Linked DNA regions of Homo sapiens. The protein of the gene in region 1 interacts with the protein of each later gene in a pairwise test. Each region holds a gene or a part of one and is shown on either strand. Other genes may lie near its edges. The genes, in order: RAP1A and PDE6D.

Region 1 (3,500 bases):
TGCTAATTGTTGGATACAGAGATGAATTAGACAGGGTCTCTGCCCTCAGGGAGTTTCACAGTCTGTCATTGTTTGTATTGTAATAGTTAAGTTACTCCAGATCTTGCCAGTGTTTAGTTTTACCCATGAACTTTAGTGTATGGTTGATGATATTTTATATAAAATAGGGATTAGACATCCAGATTTTCATGTTGGTAATTGTTTTTTTTCCTTACAAAGGGATATGTTTAAAAATTAAATTTTTTTTGAGACGGAGTCTTGCTCTGTCATCCAGCCTGGTGTGCAGTGGTGCAATCTTGGCTCACTGCAACCTCTGCCTCCTGGGTTCAAGCGATTCTCCTGTCTCAGCCTCCCCAGTAGCTGGGATAACAGGTACCCACCACCACGCCCAGATAATTTTTTTTTTTTTTAATCGTTAGTAGAGACGAGGTTTCCCCATGTTGGCCAGGCTGATCTCAAACTCCTGACCTCAAGTGATCCAGCCACCTTGGCCTCCAAAAGTGTTGGGATTACAGGTGTGAGCTACTGTGGCTGGCAACAAAGGAATTTTTAATGGTATCTGTAATTTGTTTAATTTCTGTTTTGTATGATGCTTTTAGAATATTATAGCTGTGACCGCCCCATGTTTTGTTCTTTGAGACAGAGTCTTGCTCTGTCACCCAGGCTGGAGTACAGTGATGTGATCTTGGCTCACTGCAACCTCTGCCTCCGAGGTTCAAGGGATTCTCCTGCCTTAGCCTCCTGAGTAACTGGGATTACAGGCACGTGCCACCACACCCGGCTAATTTTTGTATTTTTTTTTAGTAGAGAGAGAGTTTCACCATGTTGGTCAGGCTGGTCTTGAACTCCTGACCTCATGATCCGCCCGCCTCAGCCTCCCAGAATGCTGGACTCCTGCGGCTGAGACTATTGTTTTTGTTAAATAGGTCAACATTGAAATTTTATTTGGTTTATAGGGGATGACGACACCAGCCAGTTTTGATAGAAAACTATACCACTGTGAGGGCTTTGCCCAGAATTTCTGGTTCTGGAACCTAGATGGCTTGATTTGGCATAGGTGGGGAGCTTTGACATCTACACAAGGGAGTGGGTTGAATCACTTGAGTTACTTGAAAGCACCTTGCTCTGTTTCTGACATGTGATAGGGACACCGTAAATGTTCATTGAACCTCAGATCACTTCTAATCTCGTGATTCTAAAATTCTCTTATTTTAGTTGGTCAATGAAAATAACTAATGTAAAGCATTTATATTTTAATATTGGAATACATTTGAAATTGTGAATGTAAGTTTACTCGTTTATAATGTCCCTTTTCAAATTAATTGGTTATAACAATTAATTGATTACATCTAATCATTTGTAAGAAGAGTTACGGCCTATTTCCAAGAATTTTTTGCTTATTCTGATGTCATATAATTGCTGCATTACTTAATGCCAGATTCATATCTTATGAAAAAGATTAGCATTAAACAAAAATATTTAAGCTTTAGTATGTTACTGAGACAGATGAAGTGTCCATTTTTTCTTTTATTGTGTGCATGAAGTATGGGGATTACAAGCAGTAGTTTTTATGTGCTTTTTAGTTTTTCATATACAAAGATAATGTTAATATTAGCTCATTTACATTTTGAAACTTTTGTAATAGTGGTATAGATTTGCACTGCATAATTCACATTCTCTCAGTCTCCTGCACACAGTTGTGAGATGACTGGTTAAGAGGGCACTTTGTTTCAAAGTTAAATGATCCAGATGAGTATTGAACCTATAAGCTTAGCTTTGTTCATTATCATGAGGTTCTGATCAACAAAGCAGTTCAACAGAGAACCATGCCATGCTGTCATTTCTGCTTGAAAATAAGCCTTTTAGAGGTAGAAGGTACAAACATGCATATACACATGCACCAATAAAAAAAGGAAATTGTGTATGGTTATTAAGGTAGAGTTGAAACAGGAAATAACGTGCGTTTATAAGTGGTTTAAAAATAATTCTTTTAATAAAATTTTCAGAAATACTTGATATACGCATGGAAAATTAAATGTTTTATGAAATAAACTCCAATCAGTAGACAAGTTAATGGCTTTTTTAAAAGCACTAATGACTTATTTACTTAGGCTATATAAATTTAGGTTAGATAAATCTGAAAAAAAAATTCTTTATAAATCACTCAAATTTTCCCAGTGTTTCTTACCTCTAACCTATTTAGTTTACACTGGTAGAGTGGTTCAAAGTGTTAAAGTTAACCAAATTTAAAATTAAATGTGTAATCATATGTTTTAGTGTCCGAATGTATTTAAATTAGGCCATATTTCATAAGAATAGCAGTATATTAAACTAAAAAAGCTAATAAAAGATACTATTGGGTTAATTAAAACTTGAAGTGCCTTACCTTGAACACCTAGGTGTATACGCCTATAACATGTTACTCCTTCACGGTTTTTTGCAGTGCAGTGCTGTACCCACTTATTCTGGAGGTAAAAGATAATTTTGTTCATGATAGGACTGTGGTTAGCTGTCTTTCGTTTTTTAACTGTTTTCTTTTTTTTTTGTTTTGTTTTTGTCTTTAGAAAAGACAAAACTATAAAAAGAGGCACAAAGAACTGAATACAACTATTTGGACATATCCCAAATGCAGTTTATATGACTCTAAGTTAGTAGTGGAAATCTCTTATTGCTGACTATACATTTCAGATATGTCAGATGTGTAATCCAGAGAGTAAATTCACTCACTGTATTTTCAGTGATATTTTAAAATTCATTTATCAGTAGGATCATTCTGTTCTAGACAAGTTGGCTATATTATAAAACATTAAGCAAGCAGGCACTAAGTTAAATATTGTAGCAGTTGAAATTTAATGCTAATCTTACAGTTTTACACAGTTAACAATCTAGGCCAAATCTATTGATACCTTTGGAACTACCCTTTAAATTCCATCCTATGCTTGTGAAAAGGTTGCATATAATTTCTTTTCCTTTTTCTCTCTTCTCTTCCTCTTCTTTTTTCTTTTTCTTTTTCTATTTCCCTTTTCTTCCTTTTTCTTTCACAGAGTCTTGCTATATCACCCACGCTGTTCTCCACCTCCTGGGCTCAAGCTATCCTCCCACTTCAGCCTCCTGAGTAGCTGGGACTACAGGCGTGTGCCACCACAGTTAATTCATAATTTCATTAATAGATTTCAGATTCAGTCATTGAACAGATGTTTAAGTAACCCCAAATTAGGCTCTTTGATGGATACTGAGATGTGAAGGTGTAGTTTCTGCTTAAAGGAATTTATAGTCTAGCAGTTTATTTTGTTTGCCACAGCCTGTCATGTGTTTTATAAATCAGTGTTGTATTTTCATGATAGAGTGAAAATAGAATGATACTCATTTTTTAAGTAAAATAAATTGTGAACATTTCACATTCTCTTAGTTGGTGAACAGCTATTTTGGTGGTCTTGTTTTCTAACAGCTTATGAGTATTAGACCAAATCAGTTTCCCAGTTGTTTAAAATAGAGTTAAA
Region 2 (4,032 bases), on another chromosome or scaffold:
CCCAAGGAAACAACTCATGAAGATCACTCTATAGTGAATGCCACAGTCCATAAACTTCACCCACAAGCACAGAACTCTCAAATTGCTTTGTAGTGGCCCCCTCTGTTTTTTTTTTTTGAAACAGAGTCTCACTCTGTCACACAGGCTGGAATGCAGTGGCACAATCTCGGCTCACTACAACCTTCATCTCCTTGGTTCAAGCAATTCTTGTGCCTCAGCCTCCTGAGTAGCTGGAATTATAGGAGCACGTCACCAAGCCCAGCTTATTTTTGTATTTTTAATAGAGATGGGGTTTCACCATGTTGGCCAGGCTGGTCTCGAACTCCTGACCTCAAGTGATCTGTCTGCCTCAGCCTCTGAGTGCCCTGTTTTTAAATATGAGAAGATAGCCAAGTATCAACAGAAATTTAAGAAAGCATTTATTATGAAAGACAGACCAAAACAAACTAAAAGAAAAAAGTAACTTAGAAGAATAAAGAGGCTTACAGATAAAGACATAAGTTTTAAAAAGGAGCATTAAAAAAGAGAGATAAGACATAACCTTTACAGACACTAAAAATTAATATAATAAAATTCTGTATATTTTAGGTGAATTTCTCTGGTTTGAGGTTACAACTTATGAAGCTGGTTAACTGATGTTCTCTGTCAGAAAATGCCTTCTAACATAAGTATTTATATTTTCTAGTTTCTGTATTGTTTCATACATTAAATGAGTCAATAATACCAATTTAAAAAAGAATATTCAGAGAACAAAAAAGAACTCTAGAAACACATATATTTTGATAGCAGAACCAAACAACTCAACACAAAGACAAAATTGAAGAAAGCTTTCAGAACGAAAAAGGCAAGGATAGAAAACAGGAGAGCAGGCTGAGTGTGGTGGCTCACACCTGTAATTCCAGCACTTTGGGAGGCTGAGGTGGGTGGATTCCTTGAGCTCAGGAGTTTGAGATTAGCCTGGGAAACATGGTGAAACCCCATCTCTACAAAAATACAAAATTAACAAGTCATGGTGGTGCATGCCTGTGGTCCCAGCTACTCTGGAGGCTGAGGTGAGAGGATTGCCTGAGTCCACAAAATCAATGCTGCAGTGAGCCGAGATCATGCGACTGCACTCCAGCCTGGGCGACAGAGGGAGACCCTGTCTCAAAAAAAAAAAAAAAAAAAAAAAGGAGAGTAAAGGCACAAAAACTTATAGTCCAAGAATAGTCCAAGAGTTCTAGTGTCTAACTAATAGAAGTTCTAGAAAGGTAGAACAGAGAGAACAGAGGGGAGGATGGCATCAATAAATTAATTCAAGAAAATTTCGTAGATGGAAAGTGTCTAGGCCAGGAGCGATGGCTCACCTGTAATCCCAGCACTTTGGGAGGCTGAGGCGGGCGGATCACCTGAAGTCGGGAGTTCGAGACCAGCCTGACCAACATGGAGAAACCCCATCTCTACCGAAAACACAAAATTAGCCAGACGTGGTGGTGCCTGCCTGTAATCCCAGCTACTCAGGAGGCTGAGGCAGGAGAATCACTTGAACCCGGGAGATTGCGCCATTGCACTCCAGCCTCAACAAGAGCGAAACCCTGTCTCAAAAAAAAAAAAAAAAAAAAAAAAAGGGTGTAGCAAATGCCCAAGTCACATCATTAGTGCATTTACAGAATATCAAAGATAAAGAAAAGCGAAAAGCTTCCAGAGGTTAAACAAGTCATTATACAAAGGGTCAAATCAGAATAGGAAAAAAAATCAGAATAAATCAAATTCAAAAGGAACCCTGGAGGGTAGGAGACAACTTAGCAGGGCCTTTAAAATTTTCAGGGAAACAATTCCTGAAACAAACTAAAAAATATTTGCTTTCTTAAGAAACTAAGGAAAATATGGCTTCATCAAAATGACAGAGAAAACCAAGAAAGGGGATGACATGGGATATAGCAAGCAAGAAACAGCTGAAGGGAGTCCCCTGAGTGACAGTGAAGGAAGATCCCAAGACAATAGCTCTTTAACAGGTCTGGAGAGTGACTAGTCCAGGGTCCAGGCTAGAGCAGGTCACAAAGCTCAGGAAGAGATTTTCTTTTAAAAAGATAAAATTCATAGAATACCTAGTGTGTTTATATGGAAAGGAGATTTATACAATTAGAGGGAGATTTTGGGGTCAAATTCATGAGAAGCACAGAAAATCTAAGCAAATGACAAAAATCCAAGTACTGACATCAAGAAAAATTAAAGGTAGTACTGGAAGAAAAAAGTAGTCATAGTATAACTCATGGCTTCATTGCAAGTAGTGCTGATATGGTCATAACAATGAAAGCACATGCTAACACCCAATATAATTTACCTGGGAGGATGGGGGAACAAGAGTATGTATATCTGGATAGTCAGGCACGAAATGTTGAGAAACAACAAAACTGTCATTTTCCGTAGTGGAAAGTGGATAAATAATGCTAAAATGGAAACATTACGACATAGCCACATTTTGCTTTTTAGAAATACCAAGATGAATACCAAATAAATAAGCTAAAAAGGATTGAAAATAGTTTTCTCTGGGGAGTAGAAAATAGGGGGACAGGGAGTGGTGCTCTTCATTAGAAACTAGATAGACTGTGTTTTTTGTTTTTTTTTTGAGATGGTTTCGCTCTTGTTGCCCAGGCTGGAGTGCAATGGCATGATCTTGGCTCACTGCAATCTCCACCTCCTGGGTTCAAGCAATTCTCCTGCCTCAGCCTCCTGAGTAGCTGGGATTACAGGCATGCACCACCATGCCCGGCTAATTTTTGTATTTTTAACTGGAGATGGGGTTTCTCCATGTTGTTCAGGCTGGTCTCAAACTCCCGACCTCAGGTGATCCGCTTGCCTTGGCCTCCCAAAGTGCTGCGATTACAGGTGTGAGCCACCTTGCCCGGCTGACTATGATTCTTTAAATGATGAACACATACAACTTAATAAAAATAAAGACTAACTTTAAGAAGAGAGTGCTAAGGTTTTTTTTGTTTTGTTTTAAAAAACAATTGACAAACCATTAAAGGAAAAGAAAATTAACATTATGCAAGCACAGAGGCTGTCTGCAAAAGATCGTTAATATTTGCGAAGAGACTGAGCTGCAGATAAATATATGTATAATATAGATATAGTTTACATGTGTCTTTTTTTTGGTTTTCTTTTTTTGCTATCTTGTGATCAGACTCTCTTCCCAAAGAAGAGAGTCTCTACCTTGTGGAAGGCAGTGACTGCTTTGCACTACAGCAGCTAGAAAGGCCAGATCCTTTTCTCCCAGCCCTGGCATAATCAGGGGTGAGCACAAGAAGGCCTAGCCTTGGACACGTGCTACCCAGTTCTGGGGTCCTGAAGCTACAGGACTTTCGAGGGAGTTGGAAGTTCTTCAGGGTGGGGGCAGCAGGGGCATGCCAACCTGCCCTTTCCTACTGTGTGGTCTTTGCTACAGACCCTGTCCTTCAACTTCCAGGCAGCTCCAAAAGCCTCAGATACCCTTTCCCATTGTTTGAATAGCTTGCAGTGAAGAACCCTAAACAACACAGCTGACTGGAATCATCATGTGTGTAATAACACTATATTTTACCCTCTGGAGAGATTCTGTCTAGGTTTTGCTGCTATACGAGAAAAGTCTCGGCTGGGCGTCGTGGCTCACGCCTGTAATTGCAGCACTTTTGGAGGCCGAGGCGGGCGGATCACGAGGTCAAGAGATCAAGACCATCTTGGCCAACATGGTGAAACCCCGTTTCTACTAAAAATACAAGAATTAGCTGGGCGTGGTGGTGTGCGCCTGTAGTCCCAGCTAATCAGGAGGCTGAGGCAGGAGAATCGCTTGAACAGAGGAGGCGGAGGTTGCAGTGAGCAGTGAGCCAAGATCATGTACTGCACTCCAGCCTGGCGACAGAGCAAGATTCCGTCTCAAAAAAAAAAAAAAAAAAAAAGAAAAGTCTCAAAATATAACAAAGGGTTATTCAGCAGAGTGCCTGCAATGTGATGAGGAGTCTATCTTTCTGTGCACTCAACCTGCTTGTGGGCATCCCTGCATGAATGTACTGT

The links.
Region 2: the proteins of RAP1A (region 1) and PDE6D interact in a two-hybrid assay, tested with the Homo sapiens proteins (2 studies listed by BioGRID).

The regions. Positions count from the first base shown.
Region 1 is NC_000001.11:111,622,789-111,626,288, forward strand, and holds part of RAP1A (ras-related protein Rap-1A precursor), read left to right. Parts: intron 1-3,500. UniProt on the Homo sapiens protein: Counteracts the mitogenic function of Ras, at least partly because it can interact with Ras GAPs and RAF in a competitive manner. Together with ITGB1BP1, regulates KRIT1 localization to microtubules and membranes.
Region 2 is NC_000002.12:231,739,533-231,743,564, forward strand, and holds part of PDE6D (retinal rod rhodopsin-sensitive cGMP 3',5'-cyclic phosphodiesterase subunit delta), read right to left. Parts: intron 1,575-4,032; exon of another isoform or gene 1,425-1,574; coding exon of another isoform or gene 1,347-1,424; intron 1-1,346. UniProt on the Homo sapiens protein: Promotes the release of prenylated target proteins from cellular membranes. Modulates the activity of prenylated or palmitoylated Ras family members by regulating their subcellular location.